Regions from separate parts of the Homo sapiens genome. Here region 1 is linked to region 2. Evidence: fine-mapped expression QTL. A gene starts in region 2. The other region holds a variant in brackets. All regions are shown on one strand. Distances are between the middles of the regions.

The links. PIP is the estimated chance that this variant, and not a neighbour inherited with it, causes the effect.
Region 1: its variant is the best candidate, but not a certain one, in a credible set for the expression of RTN4RL1 in left ventricle (GTEx, PIP 0.66).

What each region holds. Positions count from the first base shown.
Region 1 is chr17:1,884,211-1,887,112 of GRCh38, forward strand. The region is part of intron 13 of RPA1 (replication protein A1); the gene reads left to right. Among named protein-coding and RNA genes, the nearest start is that of RPA1, 56 kb to the left of the region's middle. The variant G/A (reference allele first, on the strand shown) is at 1,759.
Region 2 is chr17:2,024,257-2,027,147 of GRCh38, forward strand. RTN4RL1 (reticulon 4 receptor like 1) reads right to left here and starts at 1,078. Exons shown (of 2, transcript NM_178568.4): 1 at 597-1,078. The coding sequence starts at 609. RefSeq lists enhancers at 1-470, 1,639-2,139.

The sequences.
Region 1 (2,902 bases), 140 kb before region 2:
TGACAGTCAAGCTTTGTGGTATAATATCACCTGCTTTCGGGTCCACGTTTCTTTCCTGTGATCCTTCCTGCAAATTTAAGCGCCCACATATCAAAAAGATGTTTTTTGAGATGAGCGTTAGTCCGCCTCAGGTCAGACATGAGGCAGTTTCACGGGTGCTGTTCCTGGCTGTAGAATAGTGTATTAACCTCATAGGCTGAGAGCTGCCGGCATTCCCGGACAAGGATTGGCCCTGACATTTGACTTTTAGTTGCAGCTTTTTCCTTTCAGTGTTTGTATTTAATGACCCTCCTCCCATCTTGATCTAAGCCTGTGTTCTGCCAGCAGTTTAGTATTTAGATCATTTATTTCTCCTTTACGCCTGCTCTTTTATTTTCATCATATACAGTGTAGGTTTCATTCCTCCTGTCTCATTTCACTGTATACCCTTATCCATCATTGTCAACAGCAGCTCTTAAGTGCTCTTATAGAACATCTCAAGAATTAAACACTGGACAGATCCTCGTTGTCCTGTCATGGGACACCCACTCTTTCGGTTCTCTGTAATCCCAGCTACCCAGGAGGCTGAGGCAGGTGGATTACATGAGCCCAGGAGTTCGACTGAGCAACATGGAAGACCCCTTCTCTTGAAACAAAAACTTTATTGCTGAAAAATGCTGACAATCATCTGAGTCGTAATCTTCTTGCTGGTGGGGGTTTGTTTCAGGGTTGATGGCTGAGCAGTCACGGCGATGGTTGCTGAACATCGGCGTGTCTTTGGCAGTTTCTTAAAATAAGACAGCAGTGAAGTGTGCCACATTGGTTGACTCTTCCTTTCACAAAAGCTTTCTCCATAGCCGGCGATGCTGTTTGACAGCATTTTACCCACAGGAGAACTTTTTCAAACTGGAGTCTCTCCCTCTCAGGTCCTGTCACTGCTTTATCAGCCAAGCTTATGCAAATTCTAAATCCTTTGTCGTCATTTCAACAATGCTCACAGCGTTCTCACCACAAGAGATTTCATCTCAAGAAAGCACTTTCCTTGCCCATCGTAAGGAGCAGCTCCTTATCCGTTCAAGTTTGATCGTGAGATTACAGCAGTTCAGGCCCATTTTCAGGCTCCATTTGTAATTCTAGTTCTCTCGTTATTTTCGTCACATCTACAGATCCCTCCTCCACCAAAGTCTTGAAGCCTCAGTGTCTACCTTGAGGGTTGGAATCAACTTGTTCCAAACTCCCGTTGATGTTGGGATTTTGATCTCCTCCCATGAATCATGAATGTTCCTTTTTTTTTTAACTTGAGACAGGGTCTCATTCTGTCACTCAGGCTGGAGTGCACTGGCTTGATCACAGCTCACTGCAGTCTCAACCTCCCCAGGCTCCCAAGCTGGGACTACAGGTGCTGCCACACCTGGCTAATTGTATTTTTTGTAGAGACTGAGTTGTGTCATGTTGCCCAGGCTGCTCTCAAACTCCTGGGCTCAAGGGATCTCCCTGCCTCAACCTCTCAAAGTGCCAGGAGTTACAGGTGTGAGCGACTGTGCCCAGCCAACTGTTCTTAATAGCATCTAGAATGGTGAATCCTTTTCAGGTTTTCAATTTACTTTCCCCAGATCCATCAGAGGAATCACTGTGGCAACTATCGCCTCATGAAATATGTCTCTTAGACTTAAAAAGTCAAAATTACTCCTTGATTTGCATGGGCTGCAGAATAGATGTTGTTATCAAGCATGAAAACAATATTAATCTCCTTGTTCTGTGCATCTCCATTGAGCCCTC[G/A]GGTGAACAGGTGCATTGTCAATATATTAATCTCCTTGTACTGTGTGTCTCCATTGAGCCCTTGGGTGAACAGGTGCATTGTCAATATATTAATCTCCTTGTACTGTGTGTCTCCATTGAGCTCTTGTGTGAACAGGTGCATTGTCAATATATTAATCTCCTCGTACTGTGTGTCTCCATTGAGCTCTCGGGTGAACAGGTGCATTGTCAATGAGCAGTCATATTTTTAAAGGAGTCTCTTTTTCTGAGTAGTAGGTCTCAACAGTGGGCTTAAAATATTCAATAAACTACACTATAAATAGATATGCTGTCATCCAAGCTTTGATATTCTATTTATAAAGCAGAGGCAAAGTAGATTTAGCATAGTTCTTATGAGCCCTAAGATTTTTGACATGGTCAATGAGCACTGGCTTCACCTTATAGTCCCCAGCTGCATTCGCGCCTAACAGGAGAGTCAGCCTTTCCTTTGAAGCTTTGAAGCCAGGCATTGATTTCTACTCTCTAGGACGAATGTTCTTGATGGCATCTTCTTCCAGAAGGCTATTCTGTCTACGTTGAAAATCTGTTGTTGAGTGCAGCCACCTTCATTGGTGGTCCTAGCTAGATCTTCTGGATAACTTGCTGCAGCTTCTCCATCAGCACTTGCTGCTTCACCTTGCACTTTTGTTATGGTGACGGCTTATTTCCTTAAACCTCATGAACCAACATCTGCTGGCTGCCATCTTTTCTTCTGCAGCTTTTTTTTTTTTTTTTTTTGAGACAGAGTCTCACTCTGTCACCCAGGCTGGAGTGCAGTGGTGCAATCACAGCTCACCTCAGCCTCTGGAGTAGCTGGGACTACAGGTGCACACCACCGTGCCCTGACAGATTTTTGTAGAGACTAGGTCTCACTATGTTGCCTGGCTGGTATCGAACTCCTTGGCTTAGGCAATCATGTTGCCTCTGCCTCCCAAAGTGCTGGGATTACAGGTGTGAGCCACTGCACCTGGCCTCTTCTGCAGCTTCCTGACCTCTCTCAGCCTTCACAGAATTGAAGAAAGGTGAGGCCTTGCTCTGGGTTAGGCTTTGGCTTAAGAGAATGTTGTGGCTTGCTTGATATTCTATCTAGACCACTACAGCTTACTCCATATCAGCAGTAAGGCTG
Region 2 (2,891 bases):
TAATGAAAGTTTGAGGAACTGGACATCAGGCGCTGGCCGCTCCCCACCCTCAGCCGCTGGGTGCCCAGAGCCCATCCCTAGCGATCAGAGCAGAACTGCAGAGAAGACGTCCGCGTCCGGGCCCCGTCTGGGGAGCTAGGGCGCGCGGGGAGCGCCCGGGCCGCGCGGTCACTGACCGCTGGCTGCACGGGGGCGCCGTGCGGACTCGGCCTCCACAAAGCGGCAGAAGCAAGGGCGTGTGCCCGCGCAGGGAATGGAGGCTGCAAGTGCAAAACTTTATCCCAGCAAAGCAAAGGTCCCAGGAGGCCGGCTCCCCTTCCACCACCGGCCGCTCACTCTGGTCTCCGACTGACCCCTCCGGGCCGGATCTCTAGGCCTGGCCACTCGATCCATGGAGAAAACCCCGTGTCTCACAACTGGCCGCTGACGGGAGCTGAGCCCCAGCAGCAGCCCCTCGGCGGGTGCGCCCGGCAAAACCCACCAGCCCGCCGGGGGCTACTTCCCAGACCGGGAGCCCCGGCGCCGGGCGGCGCCCGGGCTCGCGGCTCTTTCCGGAGCGCATTCAACTTCAACTTGCCCCTGCGGCTCCAACTCACCTTTGCGAAGCATGTTGGCCACGGGGCCGCCGCTCCGAGGTCGGCCTAGGCGCACTCCCTCCCGGGGTCCAGATTCAAATCCCTGGGCGCCAGCTGCAGCTAATCCGAGCGCGTCGAGGCGGGGGCAAGCCGGGGATCCGCTCGTGCCCGGTGGCCCGGCCCCGCAGGGGCATGGTGAGCTCCAGCCCCGCGCCGAGGGCACCGGCGCCCGCAAGCAACCGTGGTGCTGCCCGGCAGCCCCGCGCGCTTGCTCAGCCCCGGGGCGAGCGGCTTGCTCCGCGGAGCCGGCGGCCTGCTTCTGCCACCCGGAGCACTTCGCAGGCGGTTTTGAGGGGGGACGCCGCCCCCTGGCCGGCCGGCCGCAGCCCCCTCCTCTCCGCCCCCTCGGACCACCGCCGCCGCGGCTGCAGCAAAAGGGCGCTCGCACGCACCGCCGAGCTCCGGGGAAAGCGCCCGGCGCGCGTTTGCAGGACCGAGCGATCGGCGGAGCGGGGCGCCTCCCTTCCTCCCCCCGGCTTCCCCCTCCTCTCCTCCTCCCTCCCTCCCTTGCTCTCTAGCTCCCTCCCTCTCGCTCCGCTCCCCGCCCCCGCTCACGGAGCGCCTCCCATACAAAATTTATGAAAGTGCTCTCAGCTCGCAGTGCCGAGCGCCGTCCTATTCCCAAGGCAGCAGCGCTCAGCCGCGCGGCGCCGCCTCCCAAGGTGTTTTCACTGCGCCCGCCCCCGGGGAAGATGCTCGGCCCGCGTCCGTCCAGGCACCTGCCCCCAGTCCCCAAGCCGGTCCTCGGACCACTCCACGCCCCTCCCCGGCCCCGCAGGCCTCCTGGAGCCCGAACCCGCAGCCCAGCCCCCGCCCGCTCGCCCTTCGCGGCTGGAGGTCATCGGGAGACGCGGCTGGGACGCGAGGACCGCCGCCCAGAGTACGGATCGCGAGTCCGCTCCCTGCCCCGTCTCCTCCCTGGCCAGCGCCCCTTCTCCCAGTCTCGACGGCTCTTCCCCGCACTGAACAGCTCCAGCGAACCCGGCTGCCCCGCACCCCGAGTCCCAGGACACTGTTCTTTCGTGGGGAGAGGAGGGGAGCAAGCATTCGGAAAGGGCCAGCTGCAAATTCCAGGGAGAAGGAAGGACCCGTGCGGGTTCGGGTGGGCCGTCTCCGCCTGGGTGGGGTGGCGGCGGGGGGTCTCTGATCTCCCTTGGTCCACACAGACCCCGCCGGGGGGTTCGCGGAAAATGGAGGAGGCGCCGCTTGGAAAGCGGGTCCCGCAGGGGCCTGTTGAGCTGAGGGAAGAGAAGGTTCGGGCCAGGCGAGATCCTGGGTGGAGGCGGCACCCCCTGCTGGCCTGGGATCAGAGGGATTCGGAGAGAAGAAAAAGCGGATGGACCAAGGCTGTCATTCAACACACATTCACCGAAGGCTCAGCATGTGTGGGGCACTACTGTTCCTGAAAATTCAGCAGACGAAAAAGACTTGTCTTTGCCCTGTCCTCAAGGAGTTTCCATTTTAATAGGGGCCAAATGAGGAAAGTCCAGAGAAGATGGGAAGATTGTGCTTCGAAGAAAAACAAGCAGAGTATTGTTCTGGAGCTGACACGGGGGTAGAGGTGGCAGTCAAGGAAAGCTGCTCTGAGCAGGTGACATCCAAGCAGAAATCCAACTGAATCCCTCCTTGTAGGAAAAGGTGACATGATAGGAAGGTCAAAAAGAAGGTCAGGGCCGGGCGCGGTGGCTCACGCCTGTAATCCTAGCACTTTGGGAGGCGGAGGCAGGCAGATCACGAGGTCAGGAGTTCGAGACCACCCTGGCCCGCATGGTGAAACCCGGTCTCTAATAAAAATACAAAAATTAGCCGGGCATGGTGGCAGGCGCCTGTAATCCCAGGTACTCGGGAGGCTGAGGCAGGAGACTCGCTTGAACCCGGGAGGCGGAGGTTGCAGTGAGCCGAGATCGCGCCACTGCACTCCAGCCTGGGTGACAGAGTGAGACTCTGTCTCAAAAAAAAAAAAAAAAAAAGGGCCAGGCTGGGCGCGGTGGCTCACACCTGTAATCCCAGCACTTTGGGAGGCTGAGCAGATCACTTGAGGTCAGGAGTTCGAGACCAGCCTGGCCAAGGTGAAACCCCGTCTCTATTAAAAATACAAAAATTAGCCGAGCGTGGTGGTGTGCGCCTGTAATCCCAGCTACTTGGGAGGCTACGGGAGAATCTCTTGAACACAGGAGATGGAGATTGCAATGAGCCGAGATCACACCACTGCACTCCTGCCTGGGTGACAGAGCGAGACTGTCTCAAAAAAACAAA